2 separate regions of the Homo sapiens genome follow, and region 1 is linked to region 2. Evidence: fine-mapped expression QTL. Tissue or cell type: whole blood. Region 2 holds a variant in brackets; the other region holds the start of a gene. All regions are shown on one strand. Distances are between the middles of the regions.

Region 1 (8,187 bases), 25 kb after region 2:
GTAAAACCCCATCTCTACTAAAAATACAAAAATTAGCCAGGCATGGTGGCAGGTTCCTGTAATTCCAGCTGCTTGGGAGGCTGAGGCAGAAGGATTGCCTGAACCTGGGAGGCAGAGGTTGCAGTGAGCTGAGATGGTGCCGCTGCACTCTACCCTGCGTGACAGAGCAAAACTCTGTCTCAAAAAAACAAAATAAAAACAAAAGAAAAAAGAAAAAAGAAAAAGGCAGTAAAGGAGGTTATGAATTTCTTTAGACAGAGATAGTGTCATCTGGCAAGAGTTGGCCAACCTAGAAGTTAGAGGGAACACAGTCCACAGGATAAGGGCTTGCCTTTGTCTCCTGACTGTCCTCAATGCTAACACCAATTGCAAGGCTGGAGGGCACCCAGGACCACCCTCAAGTGCAACAATTTGCTAGAAAGACACCCAGAACTCACTGCAAGCTGTTAAACGCACAATTAATAGTTTATTAAGGGAAAGGATAGAGATTAGAATCATCCAAGGGAGGACACACACAGGATGGAGTCTGGGGCAGTAGCAAATGTGGAGTTTCCATTGTCCTTTCCCCATGGAGTCAGCATAGGGCACCTCTACCAGAATTGATGTGACAGTACACAGGGAGTCCTGCCAACCAGAGATGCTCAGCTCATCCAGTCTCGGTGTCCAGAGTTTTTAACAGGGCTCCATCACCTGTGCATGACTGTATAACCTGAAGCCCCCACCCTAAATCACATCGTTAAGACAATCCAGGCAAATAAAGACTCCTACCAGTCATTAGAGATTCACTTCCCAGAAGCTGAGGGCAAAGCCACACCTCTTCTGGGGCAAGGTTAAATTTTTTACTATACACACCCATATGAAAGAGAAGCTCATACCCATCATAGGACAGAAAAATAGATAACACAGGAGCCCAGAGAGGCAGACATGCCAGGGAAGTCTTTGGCATTGAAACTTAAGAGCTTTAGTTTTTAAATTTTGTTATAAAAATTTCCAAACATACCAAAGTAGAATACTATAATGAATTCCCAATACCCATCATCCAGGTTCAACAATTATCAAACTGCCTTACTTGCTTCATCTCTCTCTCTCTTTATTTTCTTTCGTTTTTGGACAGAGTCTCGCTCTGTCACTCAGGCTGGAGTGCAGTGGCGCAATCTTGGCTCATTGCAACCTGCACCTCACAGGTTCAAACGATTCTCCTGCCTCAGCTTCCCAAGTAGCTGGGATTACAGGTGTGCGCCACCAGTCCAGCTCATTTTTGAGTTTTTAGTAGAGATGAGGTTTCACCATGTTGGCCAGGCTGGTCTCAAACTCCTGACCTTAAGGGATCTGCCCGCCTCAGCCTCCCAAAGTGCTGGGATTACAGGCGTGAGCCACCATGCCTGGCCTCATCTATCCTTTTCTTTTTGTGCTTAGAGAACTTCAACTATCCATGCTATTTCACCCCTATATCCTTAGTACACTTTTCTTAAAAATATCAACATTTTCTTATATAACCTTGACACCATTAACGATGATTTCTAGGTATCTTCTAACACTCTGTCCTTACTCAAAACTTCCCCAATTGTCTTAAAAATACCTTTTTCAGTTGATTTATTCTAATCAAGAGCTAAGTAAGGTCTACAAATGTGAATATTATATCTCGTAAGTCTCTTTTACTCGTGTGACACTGAGGCACTTTGTGCCTTAATAGTATTTCAAGGTCTAATATAAAAAACTGGCATATATATATATACACACACACACTCTTCAGAGAAGAGGGAGCAAGACAAACCAAAATGTTAAGGCCACATTTTAGTAAACACACAGTGTATTTATTTAAGAAGTCATTTGCCCAAAATTCTTTAAATAACGTTCGACCGTAGGCATTTACCTGCTTATATAGCGCGTAGAGTTTTAGCTTCACTTCGTTTCCTGGATCCTTTTTCAAGAGTTTCACTTGATTCATTGAATTTTCAAAGTCCTTCTGACTGGCTCTCATTGCTGTTCTATTCATGTGCAGCTGAACTACCGGGAAACTAGTGACCTGCAGAGAACTACAATTAGGCAGACTGATTTCTATTTGTTCCCAACCCTCACATTTCTGCAGCCTGATTTCTAATTGTTCCCAGCCTATACATAACAAAATGCCATGTTTGTCTATAGATATTTTCTTTATACTTGCCTCAGCAAACTGGCTGCAAATAATTGGCTGTAAGGATTCCAAGATAATAAGTCAATACAGAAGCTAACAGTAGTAACTTTAAATAAAAGGAAAAGTAACCATCCAGGGAGGTATCTGTAAGCAACTAAAGATAAAAGCAGCCAGAACAGGAATGACCATGTAAATTTTGCCAAAGGCAAGAAGTGAAGTGCATGCAAGACAGTGGACAGCAGGAAACCAAAAGGCTAAAGTGCACAGAATTTAGTGAAGTGTCCCAAAGTCCTGAAACAGCCTCTGCACTCACTGATAAGCCATAAGCTATATCAGGTCAATTCTTGCCTCTTTGCTGGCGAAGCTGGTGTTCCAACATACACACAGGTGGAAGGAGGGGAGAATGGATGTGAACATACAAGAAATATTCAAAAGAACACACGAGCAGTTGCTGGCATTCCAGATAGAGCCACAGCCTTCTCAGCAGATGGGAGGGAATCTACCTGCAGTGGAAGGGAGTCAGTGAAGGGGGCTCAGCAGGCGTGCCCCTTTCTATGGGTATGTTTAACCAGCCAGCCAGGAACAGAGCAGAAACAGCAACCACCGCGGGGGTGATCAGCACGTTTTTAAGCACACATAGTGAGCGGGGGTGGGGTGGCAAACTTGAATGCACAGGACTCAGGCCACAAGCTAAAAATGGAGTTCACGACGATGACACTGAATAATAGAGTTAATGGCAAAAAAGATGATTAAAATAATACAGGTTACAAAGCCCAAACCTAACACACAAACACAATTATGTAACTCGAAAATGGTGCAATGAACTCTAGGTTCAAACTTTGGACTATTAGTAACTGATTCAGTAAGATCAGCCTAGAGTAAGTTTTACATTAAAATGATTTTCTGTAAAGGGAAAAACTGCATCTTATATGGCAAATTCCACGTAGAAAACGAAAGAAAAATTTAAAATATCCACAGAAAGCCGAAATGTACAAGTTTCCACAAAATGTGGAACAAATTTATTTTTAAATAAAGCGTGAGTTTTAAAAACAAATAGCAAAAACACGACCATTTAAGAAAATACATAAAGTCGGGAAAATCACTCATAATTCTACCACTTCAAGGCCACCACCGTGTTTCGGTTTTGTTCCCTATGCACAGATTCGTGCGGGTTCCCGGGACCCCAGGGAGGTGCAGCGTGCTTCTTAGCCGTTACTCTGTACCCGGCCATTTCACTTTATAGCATACGTGTTCTCCAAGAAGCAGAGTGTTAAGTCCACACGAGTGATAACGGCTTGCGTTTACCTCGCTTTTAGCAAGCGACGCTTTGCACCCCAGAAGCAGCCCGGCTGGGAAGTGCAGGCCCGGGTGCTCAGCTGGGGCGGCTCACCCGCCCGGAGTCCGGCCCCAGGAGGATGGGAGCGTGCGCGGAGGCAGGCGGAGACCTTGGGGACTGCTGACAGGGAACCATAGCCCTGACCTCCCGACGCGCCCATCCTGACCACTCCGGGCCCAGCGGTGCAGGAGGGCGCGCGTGAGGTCGTCACTTTTTAGCACTACCTCACCGGAAAACCAGCAAAGCAAAATCCTGTTGCCACCTAGACAATAGGGAAGGAGGGTCTTCCAACGGCGGCGACCTTCGCCTGGACAGCGGTATCCTGCGGGCGACCATGGGCCGAACGGCCGGGACTCCAAGCTTACCTCGGACACGAACGCCGCGCCAGTCTCCAAGCCAAGTACGCCATCGCCATCCCTTGGGCGGCTCTAGGGCTGCGGGGGCTCGGGGGTGGGGCCGGGTCTCGGGGGCGGGGCCTAGCTCGGTCTGCGGGGGCTCGGGGGTGGGGCCGGGTCTCGGGGGTGGAGCCGGGACTCGGGGGCGGGGCCTAGGCTCCCGGGCTGCGGGGGCTCGGGGGTGGGGCCGGGGCTTGGGTGCGGGGCGGGGCCGAGAGCAGAGCCCAGGCAGGAGCCTGGGGCATGGGCGGGGCCAGGGTTGGGGCGGGGCCAGGCTGAGAGCGTAGCCACGCCGCATTCGCCATCGCTAGCCCGTGGCCTCCTCTGGGGCTGCGGGGGCTCGGGGGTGGGGCCGGGGGGGTCGGTGCGTGGGCGGGGCGGGAGCTCTAGGCGGTTAGGAGTCGGGGCTCAGATGCGGGGGCGGGGCCGGAGCGAGGCCGGGTATCACCCGGGAGTGGAGGAAGTGCGGGGGGTTCGCGGCGCGGGGAGGGTGATCCCGGGAGGACTTGCGCGGCGCGTGGGGCGGGGCACAGATGCTCCCCGGCCTGGCTCCGAGTAACTGCGAGCTGGAGGCGCGGCTGCTCTCTCGGGCGGACCTCAGCTCTGCGAACCCTGTGGCTGCCGGAGCACTGAGCGCCCTGCCCGGAGTCCCGCGGAGCCTGGCGAGGAGGGGTCGCTGCATCCCGAGGGCCAGCCCTGAGCCGGGAGGTGGGGTAACAATTGAGGGCGTATGCTTAAAAGCTGCTAGGTCATGCATCCCCAAATCGAAGGTTTGCAGACCTGGTAGGACGCCTGGGGGTCAGAAGTGATTTTTGGAGTACCCAAGTTTTTAGTGTCAGTGAAGAGTTTGTGGATATTTTTGAGTTCTGCTGAGGCATTTGCAAAGTATTTTCTTTGGGGAAGAATTCTTAAGAGTTGGAAGGGCCTTGGCTGTGTCACCTTGTCCAGTTCCCAGAGAACCAAAAAACAAAACAGAACAAAACGAAACAAAACCACCCCTCTAAATTCTGTGCCCAAGTTGTCCCATCCAAGCATGCCTAGGAGTTTTAGATTTATGTAGCTGACACCTGTGGACTACCTATAGTGAGCCAGGCTAATTGTAAGTCTTTGGACAACCCTGTAAGGAAAATGATATTGCCCTGTTGAGCTGATGTGGAAATTGCCCTGTTGAGCATATTGCCCTGTTGAGCTGATGTGGAAACTGAGACCCAGAAAGATTAATCAGGTGAATTCCCCAAAGACAGGAGGCTTGCAGGTGGGCAGAGTCCAAGTCTCAAGTAACTTTATCATTAAGTTTCATCAGGTAGATCTGGGTAATAGTGTAGATGGGGCAACACCAAAAGTCAAATAGAACAATTTGGGCTTATCCCAAAGAGATTTTTTTTTTTTTGAGATGGAGTTTCCGTCTTGTTGCGTAGGCTGGAGTGCACTGGCACAATCTCGGCTCACTGCAACCTCCACCTCCTGGGTTCAAGTGATTCTCCTGTCTCGGGCTCCCGAGTAGCTGGGATTACAAGCATGCGCCACCAGGCCCGGCTAATTTTTTGTATTTAGTAGAGATGGGGTTTCACCTTGTTGGTCAGACTGGTCTCAAACTCCTGATTTCAGGTGATCCACCCGCTTCGGCCTCCCAGTGTTGGGATTACAGGTGTGAGCCACCACACCTGGCCTCTCCATATATTACAAAGTGGTAGTTGGTAGGCTGAGCTGCCTCTCTCAGAGACCTTGACTCTCTCCAAGGCTGTTAGATAACCTCAGAGGTAATGGAAATGCAGTAATCAGATATTGCAGATAATACAAGACTCATTCATTTCCAGAAGATGAAACAGCTGTCATGGAAATATTTTTTAAATCTCATACTGGTAAGCATATTTTGATAGTGAAACCTTTTGCAATGCAAGCAAACTACTCTCAGGCTTATACCTACCACAGAAAAGAGTGGGGTGTGGGAAATTAGCTTATCTTTTTCAAACTATAATTTTAAAAATATAGAAAGAGCATGTGTCAAAGATTTACTTAGCTCATTAATTAGGGAACCAACAGGGTGCTAAAGAAGAAGTTAAAAGACTAGTTTAATATAGTCAATGTTAAAAAAAGAATGCTGGAATAGATTGCAAAGTTAGAAACAAAACTGGTTAATATCCCATAGAGCAATAAAACCATAACCTCGGGAGGAATGTTTTTCCTATTGGAGAAATCATTTGCATATCTACCAGCTGTCATTTACTAAAGCCCCATTATATCCAGCATTTGAGAGAAAGGAGATGGTTAAAGAGACAGACATTCCTGGTTAAAGAGACAGACATTTAGATTCCTAGATCCTAAAGAGGGTCATCTTGGGTCCGTATTTGGTTTACTAAACTGTTAAGAGGTGTCCAGACCATGCCTTGTAAACATGGCTGCCATGGCCCTGTGGGTGGGAGGGCCAGTTGCAGCAAAAGGGAACCATTGTGATTTTGGTAGATTCTCCACCTGAGCTTGAAGATCATTGTATCTGTGCTAAGGAGTTTGGATTCCGTGCTGAGAGCAAGCAGAGAGCCATTGAAGATACAATTGGCATGCCCAGCTATCCAGTTCTCAGTGAAATCCTGGACTCCAGATATATCTTCAGGGTGTAATGGTTCTGGATAAGAGTAGGAAAGGCAGAAACTCAGTCAAGACCTCTCTAAAGCTCTAATCTTCACCCTGTTATATAACCAGCTTCCCCTGGAGCTTATGAAAATCTTGGGGAGGGGGTCCTCCAGTCTGGTTAGATCCTGTCTTATTGATTGCAGGGGACTGATGCTGCCTGGGAGGGCCGTTGATGTTCTTTGGGTTGAGAGAATCTCAGACTCTCTTAGCAGGTGCACAGGAAGTGTTGTCTCCGGCTATAATGAATCTTTGGGGTCAGCATATCGACTTCACAGTGTTGTGCTCAGTGGTAGTGTGAATGTTTCTTTTTTAAGATCATAGAATAGATTATATCAGAGTAGAATGTTACATGATGACTCTGTCAGTCATGATAATTTTTATTTCCAATATTTACATCATCAGATACTGTTGTTACAGCATGTACAGAGTCTGTCACATTCAGTCTTGAGGAACAATTCTGATACACTGTCCCAATTAACAGTGCAAGCTAGAAACCTGGAAGAGTCTTTGATTCCCTTACCTCACTGACACCTCACATCTATCATTCATCAAATACTAGTGATTCTGTCTCCTAAATATATTTTTTTAATTTTCCCCCTCATCTCACATCCCTCTGCATCGTCTTAATTCATGCTCTCATTGATTTTGAGATTACTGTTACCTGGATTCCTGTAGCAGCCACTTCCCAGTTTTGCTAATTCAGTTACCTCTGCAATCCATTCTCTCCCTGCTTCCAGGCTGGTCTCCCTAAATTTTAAATCTTACACTCCACACGATTCTCCCCGATCTCTCCCCTTGGCTGAAAATCTCTTAGTGAGTCCCCTTTGCCTGTTAAACAAACCCAAGCTGCTTAGCACTGGCAAATAAGGCCCACAAGATTTGCCCTTGCCTACCTTCTCAGGCACCTCTTTCCAGCCCCACATGTTAACTTCCCATTTCAGGTGAACTTGGGATGCTCAGTTTCTCTGAGTTTCCAGGTTCTCTCATTCCAGGCATTGGCATATCCAGGAATCTCCTCTGACCCACCCACTGGTTAGTCCTGTCCTGAGTTCCTACAGTCTCCTGGGCGTTTCTTTCTTCTGGCCCCTATGTCACTGTGTTTTATATCTGATTAGTAATCTATTTTATTACAAGGGGCATATCCTGGGAAGAATTCTACCCTGTATTCAACCCCTTTCTCATTTCTGGACACACTGCTTGACAGAAAATACTGTACTCTGTGAAGGTTTGTTGGATGATGGATGAGCTGTTGAAAGTTTCCTTCTAGAGCGTGCTTTTCCACATTTGATAATAAGTTGTGAGTCAGTTGCTACCTTTTCATTAAGTTGTCAGAAGGTGTTAACATGAGTGTTTTTGTGGTTTGAAATGTTGCTTTTTCAGTGAGTGGTAGCTAAAGGCAGAGGACTTTGACTGTTGCCAAGTTCCTGTGCCGAAATGAACTGGGGAGAGTGGTACGAAGGCAACTGTGGTGTTACTTAACTCTATAAATTTCTGGGTGAAAAATCTATTATAGCTTTTTCCATTAGTCATTAAAATGATTAGTCCACGTTCAACGTTCTGTATCATAATTGTTTCCTGCTTTAGCTGGATGACATTGCTTGAGATAAATTAAACCTGTGGCATTATTATGTCTCCTTTACAAAATTAATCCTCTTTTCTTCTTCCTAGCTAGGCTTTGTATTGCCTTCCTA
Region 2 (8,187 bases):
AACAGTGTTGTAAGCAGGTATTTAGAGCTGATTCATCTTGATTGCCTGAAACTTTAAGCCTGTTGATCATTAATTCCCATTTCCCCCTCCCACAACGCCCTGGGATGTAACCATCATTACGCTCTTTGATTCTATGAATTTGACTGTTTTAGATGCCTCATATAAATGGAATCATGCATTATTTCTGTGACTGGCTTATTTCACTTAGCATGTCCTCAAGGTGCATCTACGTTGTCACATATTACAGAATTTCTGTCTTTTAAAAGGCTGACTAGTACTTCATTGTACGTATATACCACATTTTCTTTATCCACTTCTCTGTCAATGAAGATTTACATTTTTCCCATACTTTGGCTATTGTGAATGGTGCTGCGATGAATATAGAGGTGTTAATGTCTCTTCAAGATTTTGATTTCAATTCTTTTGGATAAATACCCAGAAGTGGCATTACTGGATCATATAATTCCTTGGGATTTTTTTTAATGTAAATAGTCATATTATCTGCAAATAGAGAAACATTTTTACATCTTGTTTTCCATTCTTTGTCTTTTATTTCCTTTCTTTGCCTTATTGCAATGACTAAGATTTTCAGTACAATGTTGAACAGATGTGGTAAAAGCAGACATCTTTCATTTTTTTTCTCAATCTCAGAGAAAAAACAATTCAGTGTTTTATTTACTCTAGGTTTCTGCAGATTCCTTTTATAAGTTTGAGAAGTTCCCTACTGTTTCTAGTTTGTTTTTATCACACATGAATGTATAATTTTGTCAAATGCTTTCTCTGTATCTATTAATAATATGTTTATTCTATTAATATGGTGAATTGCATTGCTTTTTAAAAATATTTCTTATAGTAAAATGTGCATAACATAAGATTTACCATTTTAAGTGCTTAAGTGTAATTAAGTTAGTGGCATTAAGTACATTCCCATTGTTATGCAACCATCGTCACTATCCTTCTCCAGAACATTTTCATCATCCCATAATGAAACTGTCTCTCCTTTAAACATTAATTTTCTACCCCTTTTTCTTCTCAGCACCTGGTAACCATTATTCTATTTTCTGACTCTATGAATTTGCCTATTGAATCATACAATATTTGTCCTTTTGTGTCTGGCTTATTTCACTTGGCATAATGTCTTCAAGGTTCATCCATGTTGTAGCATGTATCAGAATTTTATTCTTTTTTAAGGCTGATAATATTTCATTCTATGTATAGACTACATTTTGTTGATCCATTCATCTGTTGATGGACACTTGGGTTGTTTTTACTTTTCTATCTTGTGAATAATGCTTTGTATGCAAATATCTGTTCAAGTCTCTGCTAGTCAATTATTTGCGGTATATACTCTGCTATGGTTTAAAGGTCTTCTCCAAAACTCATGTTGAAATTTAATTGCCATGTCACTTTACTGTTTGAGTAACGTTGGTGTGAAGCTTCATTGATGCCTTTTGCTTTATGTCCTGCTTAAGTCTGTGTGAAGGATTTGTGTTTTTCTGCCTTACAAACATAATTTAATTTATTGGACAGGAATTCATGGATAGTAATGCTGTCTGCCCCTTTACTTCAGAAAACACAGTGACTCTAGTGGATTTGAATAAGTGAAACTGCTCTGAAATGCTATGGAAAGCCGACTCCCCAAAGAGTGGTTTCTTCTAGAAGTTTGAATTTGTAGCTACAGTTTCCAGGAAGAAAAATAGTAGTTGGATAACTTGGTAAAATAATAACATCATTTTCATTTTCTTCCCTTTTCTTAACTTTGGTTTCCTAAAGGAAGAAAATAAGTACATAGCACATAATCTATTTAAATAGATTTAAAGAGAGTTGCAAAATAAATCACCCGGTCTAGCTCTTAAGTGAATAAAACAGATTTTGTTTGTGAATAAAATCTGTTGATTGCCAACACTACCACTACAGTATCCCACCAAGGGCTTCATGTGTCAGCTCAGTGCGATCTCCTTTAACTCTGCAGCACCGCTGCAGCTGCCGACGTAGCCTCGGTAGGTGGCTATTAGAGCTCTACCATATACAGTGGTGCATCTTCAGATTTATGCATCAAACTAAAGACATGTCCAAGTCCATTTTAATTTCCTCAGTGTTTTTATGGGAAGTTTTATGGACCTCCCCCAGTTGTCTTTTTATTTGGGGTTATGACGATCACGTTTGATAATTACAGTGATAATGTTTCCACGTGATGCTTTTGTTTGAACCTGATAAAATTTAGTGAAACTTTGTAATGATCTATGTGCACTTTTACTTGTAAAATGGAATTTCTGTATGTTTATACTTGTAAATATATTGTTGTTAGTGCTCCTGTTGCTCATGGTGTCCTGCCTCGCATTTGTGATTCTGTTAATGACTTGTATCTTAACTAAGTTCTTAGTGGTGTTGTAATAGGGAGATGGGGCAGGTGGGGTGTTATTTGTACCACTGAATCTTCATTAATTTGGTTCTTTACTGTTTTGAGGGGAGAAAGAATGTGAAATGGTTTGTGTATTATTGAATTTTAAGCAATATTTTAGAAGCTGTGTGACTGCTTTAATAACTTTTTCCCAGTGTTATTTGAATCATACTACCAGTTTTACTACAGCCGAATGACAATTGTGTGAAAGTTACTGCCTTCATAAGATCAAGTCACCACTGTTACACAGCTGACATATATTGTATTACCTTTGCAGCTAGTAAACTATAAAGTTTAGATACTGAATCTCATTACAGGGTTATTTATATAATGTGACGTTATTCAGTACTGACAGACTACATGAAGTAGTTTTAAAATCTAGTGCTATTTTTATTTTAAAGGTTAGCAATGAGGAGGAAATGTGATCTGGCTGTGTTTGTCTTCTGTACAAAGCCTGAAATGCTTATGGTTTTTTGGTTAACAGCCACAGAGGGCAAAGTTTAAGACTTTCTTGTAAGGACTAACTGTTCTTTTCAAGCCACTGTTTGTTTTTCTAAAAGCAGGATTTGCTTCCGTAGCAGGCAAGTTCCTTGACGTGGAATAGTGCAACCTGTATATGGGCTATTATAATAGGAAAGACATCTGTATTTGCACAGTTTAAATCATTCTTAAATTTTAAACATGTGAAATGTCCCCAAAAATCTTTAATTTTTTGGTAATTTGTACTCTTTTTGTGCACATGTTGATTTCTTAATGGTAAATCCTTCATTTAAAGGTAGTGTTTTCTGTTGAGAATATTTTCATGGAATAAAACAATCTTTTCGTGGCAAAAAAAAAAAAAAAAAAGAAATTTAATTGCCATGTGATGTATTGAACGGTGAGACCTTTAAGGTGTGATTAGGTCATGAGGGTTCTGCTCTCATGAGTGGATTAATGCCATTACTGTGGGAGTGGGTTAGTATGTCAGAAGGTCAATCTCCTTTTTCTCTCTGTTTCACTTGTGTGGTTCCTTGACATGCTATGCCTTTGCCATGATATGATGCAGCAAGAAGACCCTTACCACATGTGGCCCCTCAATCTTGGATTCCCAGGCTCCAGAACCATGAGCCAAATAAATATATTTTCTTTATAAATTACTCAGTTTATGGTATTCTATCATAGCAACAAAAATGGACTAAGACATACCCAGAAGTGGAATTGTGGGATTGTATGGTAATTATGCCTATTTGGGGTCCCTTAAGATTCCATATGCATTTTAGAATACATTTTACATATCTGCAAACACATTGTTGGGACCTTGATAGAATTACATTAAATCTGCAAATCACCTTGGGTAGTATTAATATCTCAATAATACTAAGTCTTTTAATCCGTGAACATGTGAAGTCTTCCCATTTATTTATTTGTCTTCTGTAATTTATTTCAGTAATGTTTTGTAGTTTTCACTAAGTATTATGCCTCATTGGATAAACTCATTCCTAAATTTGGTTATTTTTGATGTTATTATAAATTGAATGGTTTTTCTCAATTTCCTTTTTGGAATTTTCATTGCTAGTATTTA[T/C]TTATCTTTAATCTTTATTTTTTCCTTCTTTCTGCTAGTTTTGGATTTAGTTTGTTCTTTTTCTAGTTTCTTATGGTGTAAATCTAGGCTGTTTATTCAAAATCTTTCTTTTTTCTTAATGTGTTTGCAGCTGCAAATTTCCATCTTAGCACTGCTTTCAGATCCTCCCATAAGTTTTGGTTTGTCGTGTTTTCATTTGTGTCAAGATATTTTAAATTTTTTGTGATTTTTCTTGACCCATTGGTTATTTAAAAGTGTGTTAATTTCTACATACTTGTGAATTGTCCAGGTTTTTGCTGTTAACTTCTAGTTTCATTTCATTGTGATGAGAAATGATATTTTGTATTTCAATTTTTAAATCTATTAAGATGTCCTATGGCTTAACATATGGAAAATGCTCCATGTGCACTTAAAAAATACATATTCTGTTGTTGTTAAGTGCAGTGTACTGTATGTGTCTGCTGGGTCCAGTGGGTCTATAGTGTTTTTTAAGTCCTATATTCCCCTATGATCTTCTACCTGGTTCTCTATCCACTGAAGAAAGTGGAGGTATTGAAGTTTTCTACTATTATTGTAGGGCCATTTATTCTTCAATTCTGTCAATGTTTGCTTCATATATTTTGGAGCTCTAATATTTAGTGCATATGTTTATAATTGTCATATCTTCTTGGTAAATTGAGACTTTTAGCATTATATTATGTCTGTCTTTGTCTCTTTTAACAGTTTTTGACTTAAAGTCTATTTTGTCAATTAGTATAGCCATTTCTGCTCTCTTTTTATTACTATTGGCATGGAATATCTTTTTAATCCTTCCACTTTCACCCTACTCATATCCTTAGATCTAAAGTGAGACTCTTTTAAACAGTATATAGTTGATCCTGGTTTTATACCCACTCTGCCAACTTATGATTTTTGATATGTTTTCAATCCAATTACATATAAATTGCTGAAAAGAAAGCAATTAGTTTTGCCATTTTGTTGTTTTCTCTGTCCCTTACAGGTTTTTTTCTCCCTCATTTCCTTGATTACTGCCTTCCTTCATGTTTAAAGTTGTTGTAATGGCATATTTTGATTCTCACTTCTGCTTGCGTATATTTTCTTGGTGTTTACTATGTGCACTACATATAACATCCTAGAGTTATGATGATCTATCTTAATTGATACCAACTTAACTTCAATTGCATATAAAAACTCTACTTCCTTAAAGCTTTTCTCCCCTTATGTTATTGATGTCACAAATTATACGGTTTAATATTATATATTCATTAACATATATTCATAATTATTTTATGCAATTGTCTCTTAAATCCTGTAGAAAATCAAAAGTGGAGTTATAAACCAAAATTACATTAATACTGTTTTTATATTTGTTCATATATTTACCTTTACTGGAGAACTTTATATTTTCATCTGTCTTCCAGTTACTATCTAGCATTATTTCATTTCAAACTGGAGGACTTCCTTTAACATTTCTTGTAGGGCAAGTGTAGTAATAATAAATTCCCTCAGCTTTTGTTTTTATGGGAATGTCTTAATTTCTCCCTCATTTTTGAAGAAACATTTTACCAGGTATAGAACTCTCAGTTGACAGTTTTTTTTAAAATTTTCAGCACTTTAAATATATCACCCCACTGCCTCTAGTCTCCAAGGTTCTTGCTGAAATAATACTCGGATAGTCTTATCGCAGATCTCTTGTATATAGTCACTTTTCTCTTGATGCCTTCCAAGATTCTCTTTATCTTGCACTTTTGTCAGCTTTGATTATGTGTCTTCGTATGGGTCTCTTCAGGTTTGTCCTACTTGGAGACCATTGAGCTTGGATTTGTATATCCATGTCTTTCCTCATATTTGGCAGGTTTTCAGCTATTATTTATTCAAATAGTCTCTCTCCTCATTTTTCTCACCTCCTTCTGGGACTCCCATTATGCATATATTGGTCAGTGTGATGGCATCTCATAAGTCCCTAAGCCTCTGTTCACTTTATTTTTTCTTCTGTATGCTTCTCAAATTCAATAATTTCAAATGAGCTGTTTTCAAATTTGCTTATTCTTTCTTCTACTTATTTGAGTTTGCTGTTGAACTCCTCTAATAAAATTTTCAAATTAGTTATTGTACTTTTCAGCTCAATATTTTTTTTTATAATTTCTTTGTTGATGTTCTCATTTTGTTCATATGTTTTCTTGACTTTCCTTTGTTCTTTGTTCATGTTTTTCTACAGTTCTGCGAGTATATTTGACATTTGTGGTTTTTTTTTGTTGTTGTTTTGAGACAGACTCTCACTCTGTTGCCCAGGCTGAAGCGCAGTCATGTGATCTTGGCTCACTGCAACCTCTGCCTCCTGGGTTCCAGTGATTCTCATGCCTCAGCCTTCTGAGTAGCTGGGATTACAGGTGTGCAGCACCATGCTCTGCTAATTTTTTTGTATTTTTAGTAGAGATGGGGTTTCACTATGTTGGCCAGGCTAGTGTCAACTCCTGGCCTCAAGTGATCTGACTGCCTTGGCCTCCCAAAGTGCTGGGATTATAGGCATGAGCCATCGCACCTGGCTGACAGTTGTTTTAAAGTCTAGTAAGCCTGATGCCTGTGTTTCTTCCAGAACTGTTTCTGGAGATGTGTTTTGTTCATTTCAGTGGGCCATCTTTCCCTGGTTCTTTGCATGCCTTATGATCTTTTTTTGAAAATTGGGTATTTAAAAAAAATATGGCCACTCTCCCAGTCTTTGCAGACTGGCATGTAAGACCTCACTAATTTGTAAGTCCATGAGGTCTTCACTAATCTGAGATTAGTCCAGGTCTTCTCAGGTCTTTTCTAGGCATGCTTCCTTCCTGTGAATGTGTGTGTGCTCCCTGTCCCCATCAAAGGTGATTTTAAAGGTCTTCATTTCCTAAACAGTCTCACTGCAGCTTTTTCTTAGGGCCTTAGATATTCTATTGTATTCCTCTGTAATCTCCTGCCCTCAGAGGTCCACAGGGCAGCAATCCCTGTGTAGTTTTCATGTGCTGCATTGCTCACCACTGCCTTCTGTGGCTTCCAGCCTGAAATCAAAACTATTTGCTGTCTCCAGTCTGATACCTGAGTTGGACATTACAGACACCATTTCTGTAGGCAGCCCACAGACAGGCCAGGATGTTGCAACAAGTTTCACTCTGCTCCTTCTGTCCAAGTGTTCACATTTCCATGTTTCTTTTTATGTCACATCATTTTGTAAATATTATGTCATATGGATCCTGGATCCATATGACAGCTTCTTCTCAGGGCCTTAGATATTCTATTGTATGGTTGGATCCAATATTATGTCATATGGATCCTGGATATTTACTGTATTTACTATATTGTGGCATTGGATGGAAGTTATGTTTTTGTGGATCATGTTACAATCATCTGGAAAATGCCATTTTTGTTTTAGCAAGAAATCAATCTGGTTAGGTTCAGACTACAAGCTGTCTTGATCTTCTGTGGGTGGTGGTTAAAATCCCAGTACACTTCGCAAAGCCTTTGCTATGCTGGTTTGAGTCTGTCTCACTTATGAATCAGACTTATCTAGGTTCATACACAGAATTAGAGCTTCTTTCTCTTGGCTCTGGGAGTCTCTTCTTGCTTTCACTCTTTAGCCCCCAGAGGGCCCTTTTCCTTTTCAAAGTGTTTTTGTTTTCCTCAACTTCTATTTGGCTGGCCACTCCATGGTCACCGCAGCACCACCCCACAATAGGGGTGTGCCTCTGAGGCAGAAGTATTAGGTTGGTGCAAAAGTAACTGCAGTTTTGCCTTACTTCTAATACCATGCTCCGGAGTTAGATTCCAGCAATTGTGTTTATTTCTCATAATCTGGGAAACTTATCCTTGTGCAGTTGCTTCTCTGTATTTTGACACCCTTTAACAATCCACCTGCTTTTGATTAATTTCAGCATGCTCAAGTAGTTCTTTTTCGTATTTCTTCTAGAGATTTTAGTTGTAATTTGTGGAGGAATGGGCAGTAGTTGGCTTGTGCTGCCATTGTGGGATGAGAACTCTGCCTAGATTTTTATCTTCATTTTGACATTTACTGGGAGTTTGACTCTGGAGAAGCTAGTTTAATCTCCATGCCTCGGGATGCCTACTTGAAAATGGGTAGTAGCAACAGACCTACCTCATTTTTAATTTTTGGCATTGTTTTTGGTGGATAAAATATGATAATGGGCATTAAGCACTAGTAACTGCTCAATTGAAACGAATGCTTATTTCTATT

The links. PIP is the estimated chance that this variant, and not a neighbour inherited with it, causes the effect.
Region 1: ECI2 starts here. The variant in region 2 is fine-mapped to the expression of ECI2 in whole blood (INTERVAL, PIP 0.92).

The regions. Positions count from the first base shown.
Region 1 is chr6:4,131,676-4,139,862 of GRCh38, forward strand. ECI2 (enoyl-CoA delta isomerase 2) reads right to left here and starts at 3,900. Exons shown (of 10, transcript NM_206836.3): 1 at 3,836-3,900; 2 at 1,874-2,036. The coding sequence starts at 3,885. It overlaps ECI2-DT (ECI2 divergent transcript), which reads left to right and starts at 4,397. Exons shown (of 4, transcript NR_103764.1): 1 at 4,397-4,573; 2 at 5,686-5,727. RefSeq lists silencers at 3,946-4,085, 4,246-4,455.
Region 2 is chr6:4,106,772-4,114,958 of GRCh38, forward strand. It overlaps the pseudogene TEX56P. Among named protein-coding and RNA genes, the nearest start is that of ECI2, 25 kb to the right of the region's middle. The variant T/C (reference allele first, on the strand shown) is at 3,963.